Linked DNA regions of Homo sapiens. The protein of the gene in region 1 purifies or fractionates together with the protein of each later gene. This does not show direct contact. Each region holds a gene or a part of one and is shown on either strand. Other genes may lie near its edges.

Region 1 (2,666 bases):
CTGATCACACTCACTATGACCTGTATGGACACGGGCTTTCTTTATTCTGGTCACTGTGGTAGCCCCAGTGATCAACACATAGCCAGGCTTCATAAATGTTGTTGAAAGGATGAATCTCATGCTTTTCTTAATTTCTGTTTTTATATCTACTTATTTTCTATAGGATATATTGGATGTATTAATTTCCTACGAATGCCAGTACAGAGAAATCACAAACAGGTTACCTAAAACAATAGAAATTTATTCTCTCATAGTTTTGGAGTCTAGAAATCTGAAATCAAGTTGTCAGCAGGGTTGGACACTTCTGAGGGCTCTAAGAGGATGAATCTGTCCCATTCCTCTCTCCCAGGTTCCTGTTATAACTAACAGTTTTTGGCATTTCTTGATTTGTAGATGCACCACTCCAATCCCTGCCTCCCCTATCACATGGTATCCTCAGTGTCTCAGTCTTCACATGGCCACCCACTTATCAGAACATGAGTCATATTGAATTAGAGAGACCCACTCTGCTCCAACTTGACCTCACCTTAACTAATTATACCCTTTATGTATTTCTAAACAAGCTCACTTGCTATCTTTTGGGGAAGAAACATAATTCAATGCATCACACTGGGCTATAGAAAAAAGAGCATATGTCTTAGATTTGTATAATTGAAAATCTTTTCAGTGAATCCACTTACTGTATAGAAAACTTACTATAAAGTATAGATAAAATACTTTAAACTGTAAAGTAATAGGTAAACATACACATTTTCTTAACTCTGGTAGGAAAAATGCCTACTATCATGTGAATAAAGGCACAAATTTATTGTCCATTTCTAGTATTGTGTTGGTCACATGGTGACTGAACCTGAATTTCTCTATCAATTTACCTGTAACAGGCTTCTGATGTTTTAGGAACTGTTTGCTTTGGAGACATATTCTTTTTGGAAAAACTCCATTGATCATGTAGTAGATATTGTTATTGTAATTTTTCAATGGAGAAAAAGAATGCTTAGAAGAAAAGTTAGGACAAGCTCCATAATTTTATAAGTGAGACACTGCTGAGAGAACATATTTCTTTATGATTCCATAATTCTTAAACTTTGAGTTTTATAATTCTGGCCATCCTGTATTGATCACCAAACTACAGAATTTACCATAATCACATGCTTTATAAGGCACTGGGTAAATGTTTATCAAATTAATGAACTGTTTTTGCGGTGCTAGGTAACAGGCATATTCATCATGGCATGGGAGAATCAGACCTTCAACTCTGACTTCCTCCTCCTGGGAATCTTCAATCATAGCCCCACCCACACCTTCCTCTTCTTTCTGGTCCTGGCCATCTTTTCAGTGGCCTTCATGGGAAACTCCATCATGGTTCTCCTCATCTACCTGGATACCCAGCTCCACACCCCCATGTACTTCCTCCTCAGCCAACTGTCCCTCATGGACCTCATGCTCATCTGCACCACTGTACCCAAGATGGCCTTCAACTACTTGTCTGGCAGCAAGTCCATTTCTATGGCTGGCTGTGCCACACAAATTTTCTTCTATATATCATTGCTTGGCTCCGAATGCTTTCTGTTGGCTGTTATGTCTTATGACCGCTACACTGCCATTTGCCACCCTCTAAGATACACCAATCTCATGAGACCCAAAATTTGTGGACTTATGACTGCCTTCTCCTGGATCCTGGGCTCTACAGATGGAATCATTGATGCTGTAGCGACATTTTCCTTCTCCTACTGTGGGTCTCGGGAAATAGCCCACTTCTGCTGTGACTTCCCTTCCCTACTAATCCTCTCATGCAATGACACATCAATATTTGAAGAGGTTATTTTCATCTGCTGTATAGTAATGCTTGTTTTCCCTGTTGCAATCATCATCACTTCCTATGCTCGAGTTATTCTGGCTGTCATTCACATGGGATCTGGAGAGGGACGTCGCAAAGCTTTTACTACTTGTTCCTCTCACCTCATGGTGGTGGGAATGTACTATGGAGCAGGTTTGTTCATGTGCATTCAGCCCACATCTCATCATTCTCCTATGCAGGACAAGATGGTGTCTGTATTCTACACCATCGTCACTCCCATGCTGAATCCTCTCATTTATAGCCTCCGCAACAAGGAAGTGACCAGAGCATTAATGAAAATCTTAGGAAAGGGCAAGTCTGGAGATTGAGTTACCTCATAAATTTCATGTTTTGCTGTCTGCTAACGTCTTCTTTTTATTGTCTCTCTTTTTCTATTAAGTCCTAAAAATATCACTAATTGTGTGCATTGCTCAACATATTGATGGGTACCAGTATAATTTATTTCAGATAAACTATTTTAGATTTTTTAATATTCAATTCAGTTATGACTACAATATAAGGCATTTTCAATAAAGACATTCCATTTTTATTTTTAAATTTCATTATCATTTTGGGAAACACATAGTGTTTGGTTACATTAATAAGTTCTTTAATGGTGATTTCTGAGATTTTAGTGCAGCGATCAACCAAGCAGTGTTCGCTGTACCTAATGTGTAGTCTTTTAGCCCTCTCCAGTCCCCAACATTTCTTCCAAGTCCCCAAGTCCAGTGTATCATTTTTATGCCTTGGTGTTTCATAGCTTAGCTGGCACATATGAGTGAGAATATACGATGTTTGGATTTCCATGCCTGTGTGACTTCACTTTGTA
Region 2 (3,500 bases), on another chromosome or scaffold:
AATAGGGATGTGGGAAAGGCAAGGAGAGGTTAGGGATTTTCTTCCCACTGGGAAGTTTACCTTAGACTCACTGTATTCTTTATATGTGGAAAGGAAGTAAGATATTTCATGAGTTGCACAAAATCAAGTCACTAGGATAAAACTTCTAATTTTATTCTTTACTGGGCTTTATATAATAAATATACATCCTCTCATGTTGAAGATTTATATACTGTTGGGAAAAATGTTTTAAGCTCATTGGAAGAGGGGAGACCATAACATTTCACTTTCTTAAACAGGTAGCAAATAATGAATATATATGAATACAATAAACGTATCTCAAAAAGAATGATACAACTTTTATTTTCCATGGATTTTACAGATACTTTTGCTACATAGTTTATGTATTTTTATGAGATTTTTTTCATTTGTATGAAGTTCATTCAGCCTTATACAATTTTAAGGTGATATGTTTGGTAGTGTATCTATAATCTTTAAAAAGTTTAGAGTTTTTGGAATGTACAGTATATGAGGTAAAATCAAGATTACATTAAAAATTGTTTTCTCCTCTGCACTAATTTTGCAGTGAGGCTCAAATGGCAAGTATACTATTAAATGACATTTACTATCAAAAATAGGAAGTTCATTTGAATTACTATGAAAAACATAAGCCACTGTAACTTGACACAGTGGCACATTTTACCATTTTAGACATTCAACTATATATAAATCTCTGGGCTATTACACTCAGACTCATTTGTACTGCCAAATGTGGCACTTTAAAGAAGTTTCTAGAAAACAATCGCAATCACTGTTGTTTCTGGGGAAGGTTATCACCCTATACATAAGAGATTAAATTTAAATAAAATGTAAACATACAGTATATTATAGTGACAGGTCATTCTTACCACTTAGAAAGGCCAAGTTTATCCATTTCTTTTTTGAACAAGGGTTAATGTTTTTCTACAGCACAGATCATTTGACATAAAACTGTTACAATACATGCCCATTCTATTATAAAAGAAATTCTTCAGAGATCTTCAAAGCACAAAAAATACGTTCTTTTTTCAAAGACTGACAGAAGTGCTTAATAATCACTAAAATGCCAACCTCAGCAACTAAAAATTAGTGATTCGCTATCCTAAAATTCAAATAATAAATTAAAAAAGCTAGTTACAGGTGTTTTACGGATAACAGATGTGCTAAAACAAGAATTGTAGATAGTTTCATTATAAACTGTATTATTACTTGCAGTCATCGACATCTAGGCAAGATGTACAATGTGATACTTGACAAAATTCAGTCTGATCATCCAATAACTCACAAATGCAAGCTCACAAAACATTAATGAATTATGCAATTGCAAAGTGCTCTAATGCAACATTAACCACATGCAATCAACAATTTGGAACAGTATCCAAACAGACATTATACGTTAAACGTTTAGTTTTCAAGAAAGAAAGCAGCTTGAAGTTTACTGGTGCAAATTAATTTTGTCTTCAGATTTGGTGCCCCAAACAAAAAGGTTAGGTTTGATTATGAATTCTGATGGTGGTGGCAGCAGTTATGGGAGAAGCAGCAGAAACTTATGGGAGTTCTTCAAAATTAGCCTATACCAGACAGAGTGAGTGTATGTATGTAATATATACTTCTACACTTGTTATGTGTATATGTGTACACTTGTTATATGCCATATATGTATGTGTATACCCTTATACACATACATATAGTTCAAAGGTTCACAAAACAGAAGCCAAATAGGTTTGAAATTCAATTTACTTTTATGATTACTTTCTAAAAAGTATTTAAAAGCACTCAATTCTTTTCCATGTTCTCAAGACCTGAAGAGGTACTTTTTGAGTAAACATCAAAATATTTTTAGGCCAAGTAAACTGTCTGTTCTTTAAGTACTTATCTGTGAATTCATGAATATATATTTATAATGAAGAACTCCACATTTATCAAAGAAGCTTTTCTTCATGCATACTCTTTCATCCAGTTTTTGTTTCTAAGCCCCTCCAGTTACTCATCATAATCCCACTTACCAAATAATTAAGACAAATGAGGAGGTAGAAATATAGCACTAGATTGCTTTCACAGCATCAGACTTTAACATTTTATATAGCATGTTAGTGTAAATTCTATTCATTCTGAATTTTTCACTTGGTAATAATCTTTAAAACAAACAGATCAGGTTATCACTGTTACACTCATGCCGATTCGTCAAAATATCCATTCTAAATTGTTGCCTCTTAGAAAGTTTTTCTATAAGAAGGCATTTGTTAAAAAAAGAGAGAGGGAAAGAAAAAAAGAAGACCCACCCTAACAAAAAAAACAAAATTGATATTTTTGTGGCTTGCATTCTAATAAAGTGCCAGCCTCTACCTAACAATATAAGCACTGAAAATGGCAAAAATGATGTGCTATAGTCTCAATGCCAGTGCTAAATGCCACTGTTTTTTATAAAAGCAATACAGAAATAATTTTAGTACATGACAAAATAAAATGTAATAGAGTTAAAAAATAAAGTTATATTTTCACTTGATTACAAAGTACTGAATGATAAAGGCAATCAAAATGGAAAAGAAAGCAAACAGCACAAGGATGACGGCAGCACACTGCTCGTCACTCAGTGCCCGTCGGGTCCTTGTGCTTTCCACAGTGTCTCTGTTGGTGCTGGCTGGTGGTTCAGTCCTCTGAGAGATGAAGAGCACTGTGGTGCTGTAGGGACCTACGAGGTCCTGGTGTCCCAGAGAGTCTTGGCACTGGCGAATGGCACATACACGGAAGCGATATTCACAGTTCAGCTGAAGGCTGGAATACCGGAAGGAAGAGTCGGGACCCTTGTAAATCTGTTAATAAAATATTAGAAGGAAGAATTACGTGTGAAGGCTGGACAGAAAATGTGTTAAAACTGGCTAGTGTTAGAATTGTTTTTCATGTGAAAGCCAGTGAATGCCATTGATTTTATCTTTTAAATGACATGTTAAAAATACCTGTCCATTAAAGTACTTATCTGTTTGTTGCATAGGGGCAAGAGAAATTTCAAAAGCGAGGATCTACCCTTATACGGTTCACAGATGAATTAAGGAGTGCAGATGTGCCCCAGGGCAGCTAGAGAACAAGCAAAATCGGTCCTCAAGCATTTTCTTGCTTTTCTCAAATGTAAGAAGTCATTTTTCAATGCAATCATTCCATCAAAGAAGGGATAGTGTCTACTTTTGCTTCCCCCATTATGTCTTTGTATAACTGATAAATTTCCATATAATTTCAAACATATCTGTACAATGAAATGGAAAATGAATAAGGGGAGCTTTCTATAGGTGCCTATGGCAAATCACTGTATAAACCAGAGAGGGGAGATCACTTAGAATCAGAAAATAGGACCTCCTCTGCCATGCCTCACAAGGGAAATAAAAAGAATGAAATTCCACGGATTTTCAGAGGAATGTGCTAGTAATTAACCCATTTATGCCAGAGGTTGCAAATTTTTTTTTTGTGAAAAATCAGACCTTGGCAAT
Region 3 (3,500 bases), on another chromosome or scaffold:
AGTTTTGCCATAATGCTATAGAAACACTATGTATTCAAGTCTTCACCCAAAGAAGCTTCAAATACTTTAGAAATATTTTTTTCTACAACACCCAAAGGTGCCTTAGCTGGAAAGCATTCTCCTGCAAAAGAAGTCAGCTCCCACAGGGGTGAGCAATCATGATCAGCTCTCTTCACGCTTACACTTCTTAGGATGGGTAACTGAGGTTCTCTAGGGAGTTCTACCGGCTCACCCCTAGGCATTCAAGGGCACAAGAGCCAACACCTGGGGAGAGATAGTTACCTGAGCTCTGGATGCCAATTTGGCTGCTGTCTGAGCTGGATTAAAGACTCGGCGAGAAGACTGATCCTTGCAGAAATTAGTATGTCGCTCAGCTGCGCTTTCATTAAACCTTCTCATACAATATGGACGTTGAATATAATCTGAATGTAAAGATAACAACAAATGGCAATTAGCACTTCAAAAACAACTATAGAATACTATAGAATTATAGAATGAACTACATGAAGTGAAATAAGGATATGATGGCTCATGCCAGTAATCCCAGCACTCTGTGAGGCTGAGGTGAGTGGACTGCTTGAGTCCAGGAGTTTGAGACCAGCCTGGGCAACACGGCAAAACCCCGTCCCTACAAAAAATTAGCCAGGTGTGGTGGTGTGTGCCTGTGGTTCCAGCCACTTGAGAGGATAGCTTGAGCCCAGAAGGTCAAGGCTGCAGTCAGCTGTGATCATGCCACAGCACTCCAGCCTGGGCAACAGAACAAGACCCTATTTCAAATAAGTAAATAAATAAATATGTAAGTAATGATATGAACTCTGCTCCAACATGAAAGAACAAGGTCCCAAACTCTGGTTTGAGACTATTCCAAAGGGCAAGACATGCAGGGCTCAACTAAAGGACATGGCATGGAAAAATGTCACAACCTGTGCATTCATTTCAATTGTCTGTCCTTGAAATGTTTAAGTGATGTACTTTTCCAGAAAAACAAAGAAAATTAATCTTAAGAACTTCTCAATGAAATGAATTATTTAGTAAATCCTGTGTAAAGAAAGTAGTTCTAGAATCACAGAATGTTAGTATTGATGGCACAGTAGGGCACAGAATATTCAAAAGCATAGGTTGTAGTGCTGGGTGGGTCTTAGAGAAGTTACAGAGTTACAGAGGGAGATGGGATGTTTCAAAATGTGGGTTTGGGAGATATGAATGGAAGTCAATGGGACTGTGTCACTGGCAGAAAGACATACTGCTTTTGCAGTGGCTAGATTTTTTTTTTCACTTAACTACTAAGTGAGCAGGCAATATATTCAGGAAGGAGATAGTAATAGGATAAAAGGTGAGGACTCAAAAAACAGAAAAGGGAAAGAAGGAGGGATGATAGGAAAGTTCACCGAAAACAGCTTCAGCTTCCAGAGATGCAATGGCCCAGGCAGCTCCTGTCGGCCCCAGGTTCTCTGTGGTTCTGTATAATATCTTTTTTTTCTTCTTTCATTTGCAATTAACAGACATAATTGGTTACGGAGAGAAATGAGAAGTGGGAAACAGGCAAGATCTTCTTAGAATGTGGAGCTGCTCATAGCAAAACTAGGTTGGCAACTACCCCTCTAAATCAAGCAGGGATTGGTGTTTGCTTTGTTTTGTTTCAGGCACCTTAAAGGGATAGCACACTAGATATCAGCAACATAAAATAATCCCACCGCCCCGACCCCAGGAAGGGTGTGAAACTGCATCAACCTCAAACTCAGTGTAGAACTTGTGTTAGTGTATAGTCAAAATTCCTACATGCGTGGATGGGTATTTCATGTAGTGATGTTAAGAATTTTTTGTAAGCCACCTTTTTAAGCAGTTTGGGGAGTTTCCTATTTGAACAAATCATTTCCTAAAATGTATATTCATAAGATGTAACAATTGTTAAGCACTTAGGAATTATCTGGTAGCCTTATCCTTTATTTCTTACTCCATCCAGAAGGCAGTACCTCATCATTAATTTAACACTGACTGAGCATCTACTTGGTGCCAGGTGCTGTCTTACACCTGGGGATGCAATGTCTCTGAAATCAAGGAGTAAGCATTCTAGCACAGAAACAAATAAATAAAAATTTCACACGGAGATAAATGCCTTGAAAAAAAATAGAACAGGACAGCATTGGGAAATGATAAAAAGCCCAGTGCTGGAGCTTGCCTGACTGGTTTTGAGCCTGAGTTCTTTACTTGCTATGTGTGTGAACTCGGGCAAGTTACCCAACCTCCTTAAGCTTCCATTTTCCCAGCACCTACATATCACCTGTTTCATCGGGTTGTTGTGAAAGTTAACTATGAAAATCCACATAAGGGCCTGGCACAGTGGGCGGGGTGGAACATACTAAATGTTTTGTAAATGCTAGCTATTGCTATAAGGAAACAGGTTCAGCAAGGTTGTGTTTCCAACTACCAAATAGAAGTGAAACTGCCTAGGAAAAAAGTACAATAGAAAGTGCCATTATCATTCAGAATTCATTTACAATGGTTTAGAAGAACCATCTAGAACATGGCTTTTAGCTTGGTGGTTATTTCTTCAATTTTGCCAGCTGGAAAGTGAAGTCTTACATAAGAAATGCTGCAACCATAAACCCTACTCACATTAGGCAAAGACAATGATCATGGCAATACTGAGTTGCTTCCTTAATCCCACTTGCTCATTCACTCACTGCCACCCTTCTGTGTTTGGTACTACATATCACCATGGAGACAGCAAAGTTGAAGTCTATTTCCCTGCCAATGAAAATCTCAGAGATGATTAGGCAAACAGACAATTACTGCTTGGTGGGATAAACTGTAGAAGAAGAGGCACTAGGGCCTCTGGGACCCTACAGAAGGAACATAAGGCCCCACCAGAGGGGCAGAGAGCAGGCAGGAGAGAGTCCTGTGGCTGAGCATTCAAGGTTGCTGATTTCTATTTATGTTGAACTTCACATATTTTGAGAATTGTTGTATTTTCTGCAACAATAATCTGAACCCAGCATAACTGAGCTACATGTTCTACACTCAGCTCAATCGGAGTCACCTCTCTTCCTCTATCAATAATGTTTTCATAAAATCACCATGTCCTATTTATTTCAATAGGTAATGATTTTAAAAGTCAGAGTCCAAATGAATTCTTTCGAGGAATATGGTGGCCAGATCTCAGAGAAAAGTGGAAAACCAAGCATTATTTTAAAATGCCAATATTGTGCTGTGTATCCGTGTCTATGTAGCTATGCAAAATGGTAACTGAATGTCCCAGGCCTCATAGAAAAATAACAATTATAAATATTCTATATCACTGTCCCCATAAACTGTCACAGTATCCTAGAAATTTAAATCATTGACAGACTTAGCTAAGTCACTAAAAAGTAGAATATAGGCATGTCTCAAAAACTGAATCATGAAAATAGGGAATCATGCTGAGGAAAAAAGGGAAATTACTGGCACATTCATGCATGTTAGGCCATGTTATATATAACTCTAGTTATATGTATATAAAT
Region 4 (2,915 bases), on another chromosome or scaffold:
GGGCCTGCCAGCGTTGGGAAAAGCCACTGATAGGTTCGCATGAAGTGGAACTGGACCCTGCAGAAGTTTCCAAAAGCTGCCCTGCGGGTGACAGGCTGTCCGGGCCCCACATACCTCTGTCTGTCCGAGGGTGAGTAGCACAGGACAGCACTCTTCCATCTGTGCACGGCCGGGAACTGATGGGGGTCGACGTCTGCACATTCAAGAGCGGCCAAAACATCCTGATCGAGTTTTGATGGCTCCTCTCTAGAAAGCACAATAAAAGAAGCAAAAACATCTTTGGTAAAAACATAAAGACTTCTAAAATACCACTACTTTTTTTTTTATTTTGAGACGGAGTCTTGCTCTGTCGCCCAGGCTGGAATGCAGTGGCGTGATCTCGGCTCATCGCAAGCTCCGCCTCCCGGGTTCAAGCAATTCTCTGCCTCAGCCTCCCGAGTAGCTGGGACTACAGGTGCCTGCCACCACGCCCGGCTAATTTTTTGTATTTTTATTAGAGATAGGATTTCACCATCTTGGTCAGGCTGGTCTTGAACTCCTGACCTTGTGATCCACCCACCTCGGCCTCCCAAAGTGCTGGAATTACAGGCGTGAGCCACCACACCCAGACAAATATCACTACATTTTAAACTCAAGAACCCAGCACACAAAACAACAGTGTGCAAGGATCGATCTGGCCTGAGCAGATGGAACCAGGGAACCAGCAGCAGCATGTCAGGGCATTAGCTCTGCAGAGGGAGGCATCTCCCAAGGCCAGGGAGGCGGATGCAGACTCGCTGTTCTGTGATGAGAAGAGCAGGGGCCAGGGAGGAGTCGCCTCTGGGTGCACGCCTGCATTCTCTATGGTAGCAGGATCCACCCGCTGTTAAAATGCAGTTTTGCATACTTGCACCCCCAGAGGGTGCTCAGTACCAGAAGGTTAGGGACATTTATCCCCTGTTAGATTGAGATTGACCCCAAGATGGCTTTTCTTCCTAGAAGGATTTAGAAGAGATCATTCACACCACTGGCAGGCACATCCCTAGCAAATAACAGCCAACACTAGGATCACCCACGGTCCAACCAGAGGAAGACCCAGAAAGAGCATCTAGAAGCTGGACTCAGAGACAGGAACTGAACGCACACGGCAAGTCCACACAAAAGCTTGTGTGGAGGCCGGGTGCGGTGGCTCACGCCTGTGATCCCAACACTTTGGGAGGCCGAGGCAGGTGGATCACGAGGTCAGGAGTTCGACACCAGCCTGGCCAATATGGCGAAACCCCATCTCTACTAAAAATACAAAAATCAGCTAGACGTGGTGGCAGGCGCCTGTAATCCCAGCTACTCAGGAGGCTGAGGCAGGAGAATTGGTTGAACCTGGGAGGTGGAGGTTACAGTGAGCTGTGATCGCACCACTGCACTCCAGCCTAGGCGACAGAGCAAGACTCCATCTGAAAGAAAGGAGAGGAGAGGAGAGTCGAGGGGATGGGGTGGGGGGATAGGGGAGGGGGAGGTGAGGGGGAGATGAGGGGAGGGGTAGGGGAGGGGGAGATGAGGGGAATGGGAGGGTGGGAGGGGAGGGGGAGGGGAGGGGAAGGTGAGAGGAGGGGGAGGGGAGGCAAGGGGAGGGGGAGGTGAGGGAAGGGGGAGGGGGAGGTGAGGGAAGGGGGAGATGAGGGGAGTGGATGGGTGGGAGGGGAAGGGGAGGGGGAGGTGAGGGGAGGGGGAGGGGGGAGGGAAGGTGGGGAAGGAAAGTGAGTGCAGAGGGCAACACACTCCTACCCAAAAAGGAAGAGCCGCCTGGCCGGTTCCCTGGTGACCTCGAGCTGATCCTCGTGCCTGGGGCTGCTGGGACTCAAGGACATTTTAGCGATCCTGGCTGACATTTCACTTTCTGTCCTCCTGTGGCCATTCCCGAGTTGGTCTGCGGGAGAAGGCTCTAACAAGTCTCTTTCTACTGCATTGATTCTTGAAGTCAGGATCTGATCTTTAGTTTTTGTACTTTCATCTGGTGTCTTGGAAACGCTACGTCCTATATTTTGCAAATTCAGTTTATCAAACTCAACAGTCAAATCCGAGACAGGTGGCAGATGGGCTTCCTCCCCACGGGGGGCCTTTGGTCTCTTGCCCGCCAGGGTCCTGCTGTGATTCAGAGGATGGCAGAGCCCATTTCTGCTGCTGTGTGGACCTCCCGGCTCGGCGGCTTCTATGAGGTCTGCCTCCTGCTCCAAGGGGAAGGCGCTGCACCTCGTATGTCCAAAAGCACCGACTGTGGGCGGGCTGTTATTTCGAGCTGCATTTTGCCGATTTTTTATTTCTTCCAAGCTCATGTCATCTTCATCTAGAAACGCCCTCACGGAAATGGAATTGCTGCCTGTGAGGACAACAAGGAGCACTTCAGTGATGGGAACGACAGGAAGCCACGGAGCTGCTCCGCCCCATCCATGACCAACTGCCGTGACCCCAGCAACAGCAACTCTTATACCCAAAACCTCCCCACTCCATCCGCGACCAACTGCCGTGACCCCAGCAACAGCAACTCTTGCATCCAAAACCTCCTCATCAGATTTCAGGATGGAAAACCACCCACACGACTCCCTGGAAAAGGGCAAACAGGACCCTCCAGACACAATCAGGCTGCTGGGGCCAGGCACAGAAGCTCACGCCTGCAATCCCAGCACTCTGGGAGGCCATGGCAGGGGGGTCGCTGGACCCCAGGAGTTCAAGACTGCCTGGGCAACATAGCGAAACCCCGTTCTCTATAGAAAAATTAGCTGACATGGTGGCACGCACCTGTAGTCTCAGCTATTTGGGAGGCTCAAGTGGGAGGATCGCTTGAGCCCAGGAGGGGGAGGCTGCAGTGGGCTGTGACTGCACCATTGCTTTCCATCCTGTGCCACAGAGTGAGACCCTATTTCAGACGAGGAGGGAAATAA
Region 5 (3,500 bases), on another chromosome or scaffold:
AACAATCTAGTTTGAGTTGATACCAACTTAACTTCAGTAGTACATAAAAACTTTCCTCCTATACAGCTCCATCCTCTCTGCTTTTATGTTGTAATGAACTATATCTTTACACATTGTATGTCTGATAACAAAGATATGTAATTAAATTATTTTTCATTCATTTATTTTTTAAGTCCTGCAGGAAATAAAAAGTGGACTTACAAACTAAAATTACAATAGCACTAGCTTTTATATTTGTCCAACTATTTACTAAAAATCTTTATTTCTTCATACAGCTTTGAGTTTCATTTTATTACATATTTACCTTAGCATTTTTTTGTAGGGCAGGTCTAGTGGTAATGAACTCCCTCAGCTTTTATCTGGGAATGTCTTAATTTCTCCCCCATTTTCGAATGACAGTTTTGCCAGATACAGAATTCTTGATTGACAAGTTTTTGCTTCTACCACTTTAAATATGTCATCTCATTGCCTTCTGGCCCCCATGGTTTCTATAAGATATCGGTTGTTAATCCTATGGATGATCCCCAGTGTATGTGATAAGTTGTTTCTCTCTGCTGATTTTAAGACTCTCTTTGGCTTTTGACAGTTTGTTGTGGTGTGGGTCTCTCTGAGATCATCCTACTTGGAGTTTGTTGAGCTTCTTGAATTTGTAGATTTATATCTTCCACCAAATTTGGGGATTGGGGGGTCTTCTTTCCTTAAATATTCTTCATTCATTTTTCTGTCTTCTCTTTGTGGAACTCCCATAATGCAATGATAACCCACTTGATGGTGTCCCATGGGTCCTTTAGGCTCTGTTCACCTCACTTCATTCATTTTTCTTTCTCCTCCTCAGACTGGATAATTTTTATGGTCTTATCTCTAAGTTTCCTGATCCTGTCTTATGCTTGCTTATATCTGCTTTTGAATACCTCTAGTGAATTTTCATTTTTGTTATACTTTTCAGCTCCAGAATTTGTTTGGCTCCCTTGAATAATTTGTCTTTATTGATTTTCTCAGAGATGAGTGCCTGTGTAAGTCCTTCAGGTAGTATTCTGACAGGTTAGGACAGACATACACAATTGTGTATGAGGTCCACTCTGCTCCTTCTGGAACTAGGGACTTACACTGGCAACGCAGGGGCTCTTCAAGACTGCTACTGCACTGGGATGGACCTGGGGCAAGGGCAGGTAAAATGCCACAAAGCTTTCCTCTCTTTGCACTTTCTTGACCAGTGTTCACTTGGTTGCTGAACACCTCTGACTGTTTTCCAGAGTTCTGGCAAATTGAGTTGACAGTTTTTGCTTGTTTTCTGATGTTTCTTTGGGGTAAGAAGAGTTCAGAGCTGCGTATTTTGCTCACCCAAAATTTTAAATTTTGAAACCAAATTTTAGTTGGTTGCTATAGATACTAAAGATTTAACAGATTTATATACCTAGTGTACCTAGTTTTTTATTACATACCATTGGAGTACGATGTTTCACTTTGGTCTGAATAACACCATCTTTTTCAAACTGTATCATATCATTAAGTGGGTCCCATGGTCGGGTACTACATAAATGAAAAAAAAAAAAACCATTTGCTCAATGACTAAACAAAGAACTTTAAAACTTTCTATTCTATGATCCAATTTTATTAATAATTATATACATAGTTCTAATAATGAGATTTCCCCATACCTAATCTTCAGATCCTCAACTTATTTTATAGGCTAACTTCTATCATAGAGTCAAGCTTATAATGAATGCAAAACCAAGTTTAAAAATCTCACACTAATATACATGGTTTAATTAAATAAAAACTACTCCAGCAACAAATATTCTAGAAATAAAGGCAACAAACCATGCTAATACATTGTTTGAAATAAACTATTTTAAGTTACTTACTCTGCAAACTTGTAATGCCATTCTCCTGTGAGTGGATCAAGTTCAAATAATTTGCAAGACCACTCTTCATTTTTTGTTTTCCGATCCCTGGCAGCTTGTCTTTGAGCTTCTTCCAAAACATACTTCTCTTGGGTAGCTTCAGTTTGGTCTTTGGCATTTATGGCTCGAGTTACCCGTTGCCAGAGTCTAATACATGTGCGAAAATATTAAAAGTATTAAAAATGTAACAGAAAATAAAATCTATATAGAATAGGCCTCAAATCCCTTGTAGAGAAAATAATGCTCACATGAATTTCTGGCTTTGACAACACTTATGCTCATAGGCTTAGAAATGAGTCAAGATATAAATCCAGTCCCTTGAGTAGAGAGAGACCTGTTCATAAGTGGAGACTAATTTTTTTTACTTGGCAAGAGAAACTTACTACATAGACTCTTAAACTCATGATAGTAAGTGTTGAAGTGTTGCTGGCTCAAGATGATAGGATGTAATGAAGGTAAAGCTCAGGAATCTACGCTTTTAGCAAGCTTCCTAGATGCGTCTTACACTGTTTAAGATTCACTGGCTTCATAAAGATCCATTAATGTAATGCAGTGCTTCTGAAGTTTGGATCCATGAATTATCAGAGAATTTTTATAATCAGAATCTCTGGGGTCAGGCGCAAGTATTGATATATTTTTTAAATGTTTCCCCAAAATATTTTAATGTATTGCTAGTGTTGAGAACCACTGGTTTAACAGAAAAGACTACTGAGGTAAAATGATTTCCCCTACTAGTTCTTTCTTCTGTTAAATAAAAGTATATCTATATCCTACCCATCTAGAAAGGCAGCATGTTAAAACCAGAAAAGGCTTTGGGATCAGATAGACATGAGTCAAGTCCTAGAGCTGCCACTTCTTAGCTGGTGCACTTAAAGTTATTTATCCTAAGTCTCATTTCCTCATCTTCAAATATGCTGAATTATATACTCTCACAAATTATCATATGTATGCCTTGGCAAAGCTTATCTCTGGAAAAAGAACATCAAATGGTTATGGCTGAGACAGAATTTTTAGAACTGGTACATATACATTCTTCCATCTTTGACAACCTCAAATTTGAGTGTAGAAGGGAAGGTACACAGACTTGAATTCCCATGACAGAGAATGATATGTATGTGCAAACATGTAGGGAGGACAAAGTTGCATAATAAGTACTAAGTGCCTAGCAAAATATCTCTTATACATAAGTCTCTTTCTCTTAACACAAAGATATAACAACAATAAAATAGGGAATGTGTATACAATATTTCTGATTCAAAAATATAAGCCATCTAGCAAGAAGTTCATGACTTAAGAACAGAAATGATAGCCTTAGTTATTACCCAACTAATAAATCCTATAGAAGCCAGTCCATCCAGTAACTTTACTTTTGTATCAGAGAATGGAACAGAAGTAGATTCTGCACCACTCCCTTTACCTAGAGTTCTAATGCTTAAATCAGGTTAGAAAACTGTTGCCAGGTAGAAACTAAGAGTCATTAATTAGTCCTGTAATCTTATTTAAACAAAAACGTTCTTTCTTTCTTTTTTTTTAAGGTGCTGGAACAATTGAGAAAGAAAAAAATGAGTAGTTTTGAGCTACAGAAAAGCAAGACGA
Region 6 (3,500 bases), on another chromosome or scaffold:
TTGTATACCTGTGGTCAGCTAGACAGCTTCACCTCTGGAGTAGTAGCTGACCAGTGGCAAGGACCTTCAGGGTGACTGGAGTGTGTGCCTCTCTTTCATTACCCAGCAGGCTGGCCTAAAGTTTTCACATGTTGTTTGAGAGGGTTTCAAGAGAGAGAAGCCTATAAATCATCTTGAGGTATAGGCTGGGAGCTTATGTAGTATCCCTTCCTCCACATTCTGTTAGCCAAAGCATGTCACAGTGCCAGCCCAGGTCCAGCGGGGTGGAGAAGCGGGCTAGTAAGCCATGGAACTTCTCATTGTCAACCCCAAATCACCCTTGAAGACCATAGTCAGATCACCACCTCAGGCTGTGTTGTGTGCCTGTGCTCTGGGTTCCCTCTCTCACTGCATTTAGAACATTATGTGGCCACTGTTGGTTTATTTCTTGGTGGAAAGTGAGCCTCTTAAAAACAAGGACTGTGTTTCAACCCAGGATTTGGCTTGTAGAGTAGGTAACGAAAAGCTGAAGTTGTTATGAAAGTAGAGTTCAGACCACTGATATCTGGCAGTGTGGAAATTGGGATTAAAGATAATGTATGCTCGTGTCTTAAAACTTGCTTGTTGATGTTTAAAAACTTTGGAGCAAACTCATTCTAACATATCAAAATCAAATATTTCTTTGAAAAAAATGGAGGGGATAAAGAATCCTGGCCAGGATTCTGAGTAGAAATCATTTAATACTTGCACACTATCTTTGTAGGTTTTTCATGAGGTTACATGTTTGTTTGGGAAGTGAAGTTAATTTCGTGGTGTGTTTGTCAGAGAAAAACATACCTGTCCATTAACTGATTCATTGGGATTTGGGATAACATTTCTATTCTAGAATGTAAAATGAAGGAAGGGTGTCAGTCAGCATCCTCGATATTACTCTTGAAGATGTCGAACATAAATATTTCTGTTAGAATGAGAAGTAGCATTTGCCTCATGGGAGTTTGTCTTGAAGCGAGTATGTCTTATATATGTACTAATTCTTAATTGATGGTTTTTCACATGCATTTTGTGTTTTAGGTTCAGCCGTCTGTATATCTCCCCAGATACCTGAAACTGACCACCTGAGTACGTTTTCCCATTGCTGAGCTGTTTCCCTGATATCTGGCCATGCAACGGAGATCAAGAGGGATAAATACTGGACTTATTCTACTCCTTTCTCAAATCTTCCATGTTGGGATCAACAATATTCCACCTGTCACCCTAGCAACTTTGGCCCTCAACATCTGGTTCTTCTTGAACCCTCAGAAGCCACTGTATAGCTCCTGCCTTAGTGTGGAGAAGTGTTACCAGCAAAAAGACTGGCAGCGTTTACTGCTCTCTCCCCTTCACCATGCTGATGATTGGCATTTGTATTTCAATATGGCATCCATGCTCTGGAAAGGAATAAATCTAGAAAGAAGACTGGGAAGTAGATGGTTTGCCTATGTTATCACCGCATTTTCTGTACTTACTGGAGTGGTATACCTGCTCTTGCAATTTGCTGTTGCCGAATTTATGGATGAACCTGACTTCAAAAGGAGCTGTGCTGTAGGTTTCTCAGGTAAGGGAGACAAAATTTTGAGGTTGCATGCATAAAGGAAGCAAGGGAGGTGTGGCTGCTGTCATTTTATGAAGTGTGGGTCCCTATCAAATTCTGAGTGGTTAAGGGCTGCTGAGGCTTTGCGTCTTGAAGAGGAGGCTGGAGCATGCAGGGACTAGTTTTTGCCATTCTACATTATGCTGCATTATTCACTCTTAGTCTGCACTAGGACCTGCTGGAAGGTGGTTTTGTAGAAGACATAGTATTGGAAATATGCACCAGCTCCTTATGGTAGGGTCACAGAAAGACCCACAGATGTATTTGTAATAGGGAGTTCTCAAAAAAGATGACTGTGCTTGTGAAGTAGGCTCAGTGTGCTGTCTCTGATTACCAACTTGTCTGCACCTGGTGAGACAGAGCACACTCATCTGCAACAAGTTACATGAGGCAGATTTAGTATTTACAGTTAGGCAGCAAGGGAAAACAGGAGCCTAGGATTCATCGTGAGCCCATCTTCAAGGCTCAAAAAGCTGCCTAGGGCTGTTGGAGTCTTCACTGTGTGTGTTCCTTGCATGCAAATAAGGAACCCCAAAGAGGCAGCCAGGTACAAACCTAGGAATCACATGAATCACTGGGCAAAGCTTTGAAAGACATCCTATTCGGGAGAGGATTAGGCTGTTTCAGCCAGCCCCCTTTTATCTCAGGGTGTTGGATTTCCAGCACATTTCCATAGTTATTCTTGAGAACTACAAGCGAGAAAGGAGGGGGAGAACTACATAGGTCCAAGGCCACCTGGAGAACTGTCCTGCGATGCCTCTGGATGACTTCGTTAATAAATGGACCACACCCTGCTATGGCATGCTGGCCATGTTTTAGGAGCCATGATAATCACTCTGCATAACCTAACCAATTTAATTTATGCAGCAGATCCACATGGAGATGGGATTATCTTTATTTTATTTTATTATTTATTTATTTTTTTTGAGACGGAGTCTCGCTCTGGCACCAGGCCTGAAGGGCAGTGGCGTGATCTCGGCTCACTGCAACCTCCGCCTCCCAGGTTCAAGCGATTCTCCTGCCACAGCCTCCCGAGTAGCTGGGACTACAAGGCACGCACCACCATGCCCAGCTAATTTTTGTATTTTTAGTACAGATGGGGTTTCACCATGCTGGCCAGGATGGTCTCTATCTCTTGACCTTGTGATTCACCCACCTTGGCCTCCCAAAGTGCTGGGATTACAGGCGTGAGCCACTGTGCCCGGCCTTGATTTTATTTTACTTTTTTTATTTGTAGTTTTTTTTCTGACCACCTGCTGACTGTTGAGGGATTGTCTTGATTTTATAGATGAGGAAGCCAAGACCCAGAGAAGTGAGGTTACTAGCACAAGGTTACCCAGCTCGGAAGCGATGGAGCTGGGACTTGAGCCCAGTCTACAGATTAGCTGTGTGATGCATTGTCTCTCACTTTCTTCCTCACTAGTTCCTTTTTACAGATATTTCATGGGACCAAAATTGCCAGCAGGATTTAAATTAGGCGTTCTAAATATTAGAATGTGAAGGGGAGGAGAGAGGTAGTCCTGAAACAAGGAAATCTAATCCTTCCTTCTGCTTTTCCTGACATCCTTCCCCTTTCCTTCCAAGATGTATCCTTATGCATCTAATTGTGGGAGAAGAAAGAATATATGCCCTGTCTTCAACATGTTTTTCCATAGAGGTTAGAAAAATACATATTACTGGTATTTTTATTGAGTTAAAATTTATATAGCATAACTATTTTGTAGTGCACAGTTCACTGGCGTTTAATACTAATAATAGTATTTTATTCACATGGTAGGTATTATGTATTTAGTAGCATACTGAACACCAATATGAACTTCTATATTTAGAAACATCAAAGGAGTGACTGCCTTTAACGTTGTCTTTTTACCAAATGCAAGGTTGTAAGGAA
Region 7 (3,500 bases), on another chromosome or scaffold:
CTCTGGCTGTGAATGTAACACACATTAGCCAGTACCCTAGTATAGCAGTTAAGAGTTAACATTAAATCTTGTTTCTAGTGATGGGGAATGAGGGAATGAATGCCTCTCCTTAAGGCCAAAAAACAGGGCCCTGGAAAATCCCTCTGTTCAGATATATATATTCATTTAGACTCTATTCATTTAGAGTCAGATAGATCTATTCATTTAGACTCTTAAAATGTAAATGCCCAAAGGGTTAAAACCATTACTTGTGTTAGTGTTACATAATTATAATAACCTAAATGGATTTTATGATAAAACAAAAATGTGTTTTAATGCCGTATCCCCGTTTTGAATTTTTTTGAAGGTTTTCTTGGAGCAGAAGAAAATGTTAAAAAGTGGCCTTAACATAGCCCACTTTAAACAGCATGTTTCTATAATTGAAAAAGAAACAAAGGAATACTTTGAGAGTTGGGGAGAAAGTGGAGAAAAAAGTAAGCAAAATGTTTTATGTTTGTCCTAACATTTCTACTTCTCTGTGAATAGAAAAGTAGAGTATATATGTGTGTAGTATATAAAAAACAAATTACAGTGTATGTAAAACTACCTTAGATTTATGGGAGGGTTATGTAATGATTACCATGAAGTTGTAACTGAGAATCCAGTTTTTATACTGGGCTGCAAGTTAAGTATTGCCTTCAGAAGCAATTGCTGTGCCCATAGTAGGAAGCAACATCTGCCCACAGGGCAGCAGGACCCAGGGCAGCAGGTCACTATATTCTGGGTCTGGCCTTTGGCCTCTGTAAGAGTTCCAGAATCTTTGTTTTTGGTATACTTAAGTTGATATTGATATATTTTCTAACCATACAAGAAACTGATGTATAAATTAGAATGCCAATGTAATAATGCATGTGAGACATATAATTACAGCACCAAGAAATCCAGAATATTTACTGATATTCTTTTTATTGACAAATATAATTGGAAAGCCAGATGATCATTGGAAGTTCATTTAGTGAATGTGGAATTAACAGGAAATTAATTGGATAATTTTTATTAGTTGTCATCAAATTATGCTTGCCTGGTGCATTTGTCTCCAGTGTTGGGATATACTAATTGGTGATTATAGTTTTCTTTTACATATCGCCAGTAATTCCATTTTGGCCCTGATCTTCCTACTTTTAACCTGGGAAATAATCTGATCTTTGGCTACTATTCCTTGGGAAGTACCTTATTATTGTCATATGCACTATAAATAACCTTTTTTCTGCTTTTGTTATTGTGACCTGGAAATCAAATAACCACATTTATTCTTTTCATGATGAAGTGCTCATGAGTGGGGTTTTGAGATGTGTTTCTGGGATCTGTTTTGGCTGTTTAGAGGGACAGGGTGCTTCACATTGTTTGGTTTATTGCCCCTCTTTGTTGTTGTACATAGTCACATGTCTGTCTACAGACTTTTTTTGATGATATGAATAGGATCTTGTTTCTTCTTGAGTTCTGTTTTTAATTCTCAATTTTCTTTCACTTTTTGGAAATAGTAATGAGAATAATCTTTTTTTTCTCCCTAGATGTGTTTGAAGCTCTTTCTGAGCTCATAATTTTAACAGCTAGCCATTGTTTGCATGGAAAGGAAATCAGAAGTCAACTCAATGAAAAGGTAGCACAGCTGTATGCAGATTTGGATGGAGGTTTCAGCCATGCAGCCTGGCTCTTACCAGGTTGGCTGCCTTTGCCTAGTTTCAGGTATGGATAAAGAATATATTACACTAGGTTATTTAACTTTGTATAATTATTGTAGTGTTGGTATGCTTTGCCTTAACAAAGATAAAAATTAAACAAGTAAAACATACAAAATGGGTAAGATTATGAATCCCCTTTCTTCTATAAGAATTCAAGACAAATTTTCTTTATATAATGAGCTCATTTAAAGTAAGTTTCAGTTTATTAAAAAGGTGATTTGTTGTCTGTCTAGTCTAATATTTTATTTATGTTTTTGTTTTTGAGATGGAGTCTTGCTCTGTTGCCCCAGCTGTAGTGCAGTGGTGTGATCTCGGCTCACTGCAGTCTCTGCCTCCTGTGTTCAAGCAATTCTCCTGCCTCATCCTCCTGAGAGCTGGGACTACAGGCACGTGCCACCATGCCCAACTAATTTTTCTATTTTTAGTAGAGACAGGGTTTCATCATGTTGGCCAGGCTGGTTTCAAACTCCTGACCTCAGGTGATCCACCTGCCTCAGCCTCCCAAAGTGTTAGGATTACAGGCGTGAGCCACTGAGCCCAGCCTAGTTTAAAAGCCTGCTTACCTCACGTATTCCTTATCCTCAGGAAAGTCTCTGAACTATACCTAAAAGTGATACAGCTCTTCTCTAGCACTTGTTTGAAATCTTTGGTGGCTTTTTATTGTATTGTGAAGTTTCTTTGTTTTAAATATTTGTGCCTTTATTTAATTTTCTGTTTCTTAAGGACAGGGACTGCCTCTGATATAAAGAAATATTGCTCTTAGGACTTGATCTATAGCTTAGTGCTTAGTGTTTTGCATATTAGTAGGCTTTCTGTACTTTTGTTGATTTATTGGTGTTTAGGTGACAGATGGGGAGGAGATAGATTGCTAGTCCCTTTTCTTCTATTTCTGCCCCCTCTATCTAGTTACAGATTGGAAGAGGGGTGGGAGTAAAAGGAAGAGCCAGGAGAGATTCCCTAAAGTTCTCTGGAACTCATCATACCTTATATTTGCAAGGAGCTTTGCAGTTTCAAAATGTTTTCATATATCTTATATTAGAACACCCAGCACAGCCCTGGACTCATAGTGGGTTCTCCATAAATGTGCATTTCTTTTTTTTTTTTTTTTTTTTGGTGATGGAGTCTTGCTCTCTCGCCCAGGCTGGAGTGCAGTGGCATGAGCTCGGCTCACTGCAAGCTCTGCTTCCCAGGTTCACGCCATTCTCCTGCCTCAGCCTCCCGAGTAGCTGGGACTACAGGCACCCGCCACCAAGCCTGGCTAATTGTTTTGTACTTTTAGTAGAGATGGGGTTTCACCGTGTTAGCCAGGATGGTCTTGATCTCCCGACCTTGTGATCCGCCCGCCTCGGCCTCCCATAGTGCTGGGATTACAGGCGTGAGCCACTGCACCTGGCCCATAAATGTACATTTCTACCTGCCTGTTTCTACCTGCTCTGTCTCTTGGATGAAGTCAGAGCTTGCTATGTTAGGCCCTTCACATTCTGGCCCAGTCTTTCTTTCTTCTACTCATACCAACTAATTTAACCAGATTATTCAATTCACTTTCTTAAACAGGCCTATGTTTTCCTGGTTCGACTGTATTCATACAGTTAAGCCCCAACATCTTCTCTTCTGTACACATGGTTTCAGTTGATCCTCAATAACAGATTAACAGTCTTGTAAATGAAACAGAGTAGGAGTTTTTTTTAGAAGGCTTGATTTAAGAGGGGGCTTGGGAGTCAGACTGCCTAGTTTTAAATTCCAGCTCCAATGTTTGCTTTCTGTGTGATCTTATGCAGC

The links.
Region 2: the proteins of OR2M7 (region 1) and FNDC3A purify together in Homo sapiens (affinity purification with mass spectrometry; one large-scale study listed by BioGRID and IntAct). This does not show direct contact.
Region 3: the proteins of OR2M7 (region 1) and ZC2HC1B purify together in Homo sapiens (affinity purification with mass spectrometry; one large-scale study listed by BioGRID and IntAct). This does not show direct contact.
Region 4: the proteins of OR2M7 (region 1) and ANKLE2 purify together in Homo sapiens (affinity purification with mass spectrometry; one large-scale study listed by BioGRID and IntAct). This does not show direct contact.
Region 5: the proteins of OR2M7 (region 1) and OSBPL8 purify together in Homo sapiens (affinity purification with mass spectrometry; one large-scale study listed by BioGRID and IntAct). This does not show direct contact.
Region 6: the proteins of OR2M7 (region 1) and RHBDD1 purify together in Homo sapiens (affinity purification with mass spectrometry; one large-scale study listed by BioGRID and IntAct). This does not show direct contact.
Region 7: the proteins of OR2M7 (region 1) and CYP51A1 purify together in Homo sapiens (affinity purification with mass spectrometry; one large-scale study listed by BioGRID and IntAct). This does not show direct contact.

What each region holds. Positions count from the first base shown.
Region 1 is NC_000001.11:248,323,130-248,325,795, reverse strand, and holds OR2M7 (olfactory receptor 2M7), read left to right. Parts: upstream 1-1,227; coding exon 1,228-2,166; downstream 2,167-2,666. UniProt on the Homo sapiens protein: Odorant receptor.
Region 2 is NC_000013.11:49,206,412-49,209,911, reverse strand, and holds the end of FNDC3A (fibronectin type-III domain-containing protein 3A), read right to left. Parts: intron 2,832-3,500; coding exon 2,517-2,831; 3' UTR 133-2,516; downstream 1-132. UniProt on the Homo sapiens protein: Mediates spermatid-Sertoli adhesion during spermatogenesis.
Region 3 is NC_000006.12:143,895,474-143,898,973, reverse strand, and holds part of ZC2HC1B (zinc finger C2HC domain-containing protein 1B), read right to left. Parts: intron 423-3,500; coding exon 283-422; intron 1-282.
Region 4 is NC_000012.12:132,727,918-132,730,832, forward strand, and holds part of ANKLE2 (ankyrin repeat and LEM domain-containing protein 2), read right to left. Parts: intron 2,354-2,915; coding exon 1,762-2,353; intron 247-1,761; coding exon 115-246; intron 1-114. UniProt on the Homo sapiens protein: Involved in mitotic nuclear envelope reassembly by promoting dephosphorylation of BAF/BANF1 during mitotic exit.
Region 5 is NC_000012.12:76,367,772-76,371,271, forward strand, and holds part of OSBPL8 (oxysterol-binding protein-related protein 8), read right to left. Parts: intron 2,052-3,500; coding exon 1,866-2,051; intron 1,531-1,865; coding exon 1,443-1,530; intron 1-1,442. UniProt on the Homo sapiens protein: Lipid transporter involved in lipid countertransport between the endoplasmic reticulum and the plasma membrane: specifically exchanges phosphatidylserine with phosphatidylinositol 4-phosphate (PI4P), delivering phosphatidylserine to the plasma membrane in exchange for PI4P, which is degraded by the SAC1/SACM1L phosphatase in the endoplasmic reticulum.
Region 6 is NC_000002.12:226,863,554-226,867,053, forward strand, and holds part of RHBDD1 (rhomboid-related protein 4), read left to right. Parts: intron 1-1,050; 5' UTR 1,051-1,140; coding exon 1,141-1,573; intron 1,574-3,500. UniProt on the Homo sapiens protein: Intramembrane-cleaving serine protease that cleaves single transmembrane or multi-pass membrane proteins in the hydrophobic plane of the membrane, luminal loops and juxtamembrane regions.
Region 7 is NC_000007.14:92,124,478-92,127,977, reverse strand, and holds part of CYP51A1 (lanosterol 14-alpha demethylase), read left to right. Parts: intron 1-346; coding exon 347-473; intron 474-1,550; coding exon 1,551-1,725; intron 1,726-3,500. UniProt on the Homo sapiens protein: Sterol 14alpha-demethylase that plays a critical role in the cholesterol biosynthesis pathway, being cholesterol the major sterol component in mammalian membranes as well as a precursor for bile acid and steroid hormone synthesis.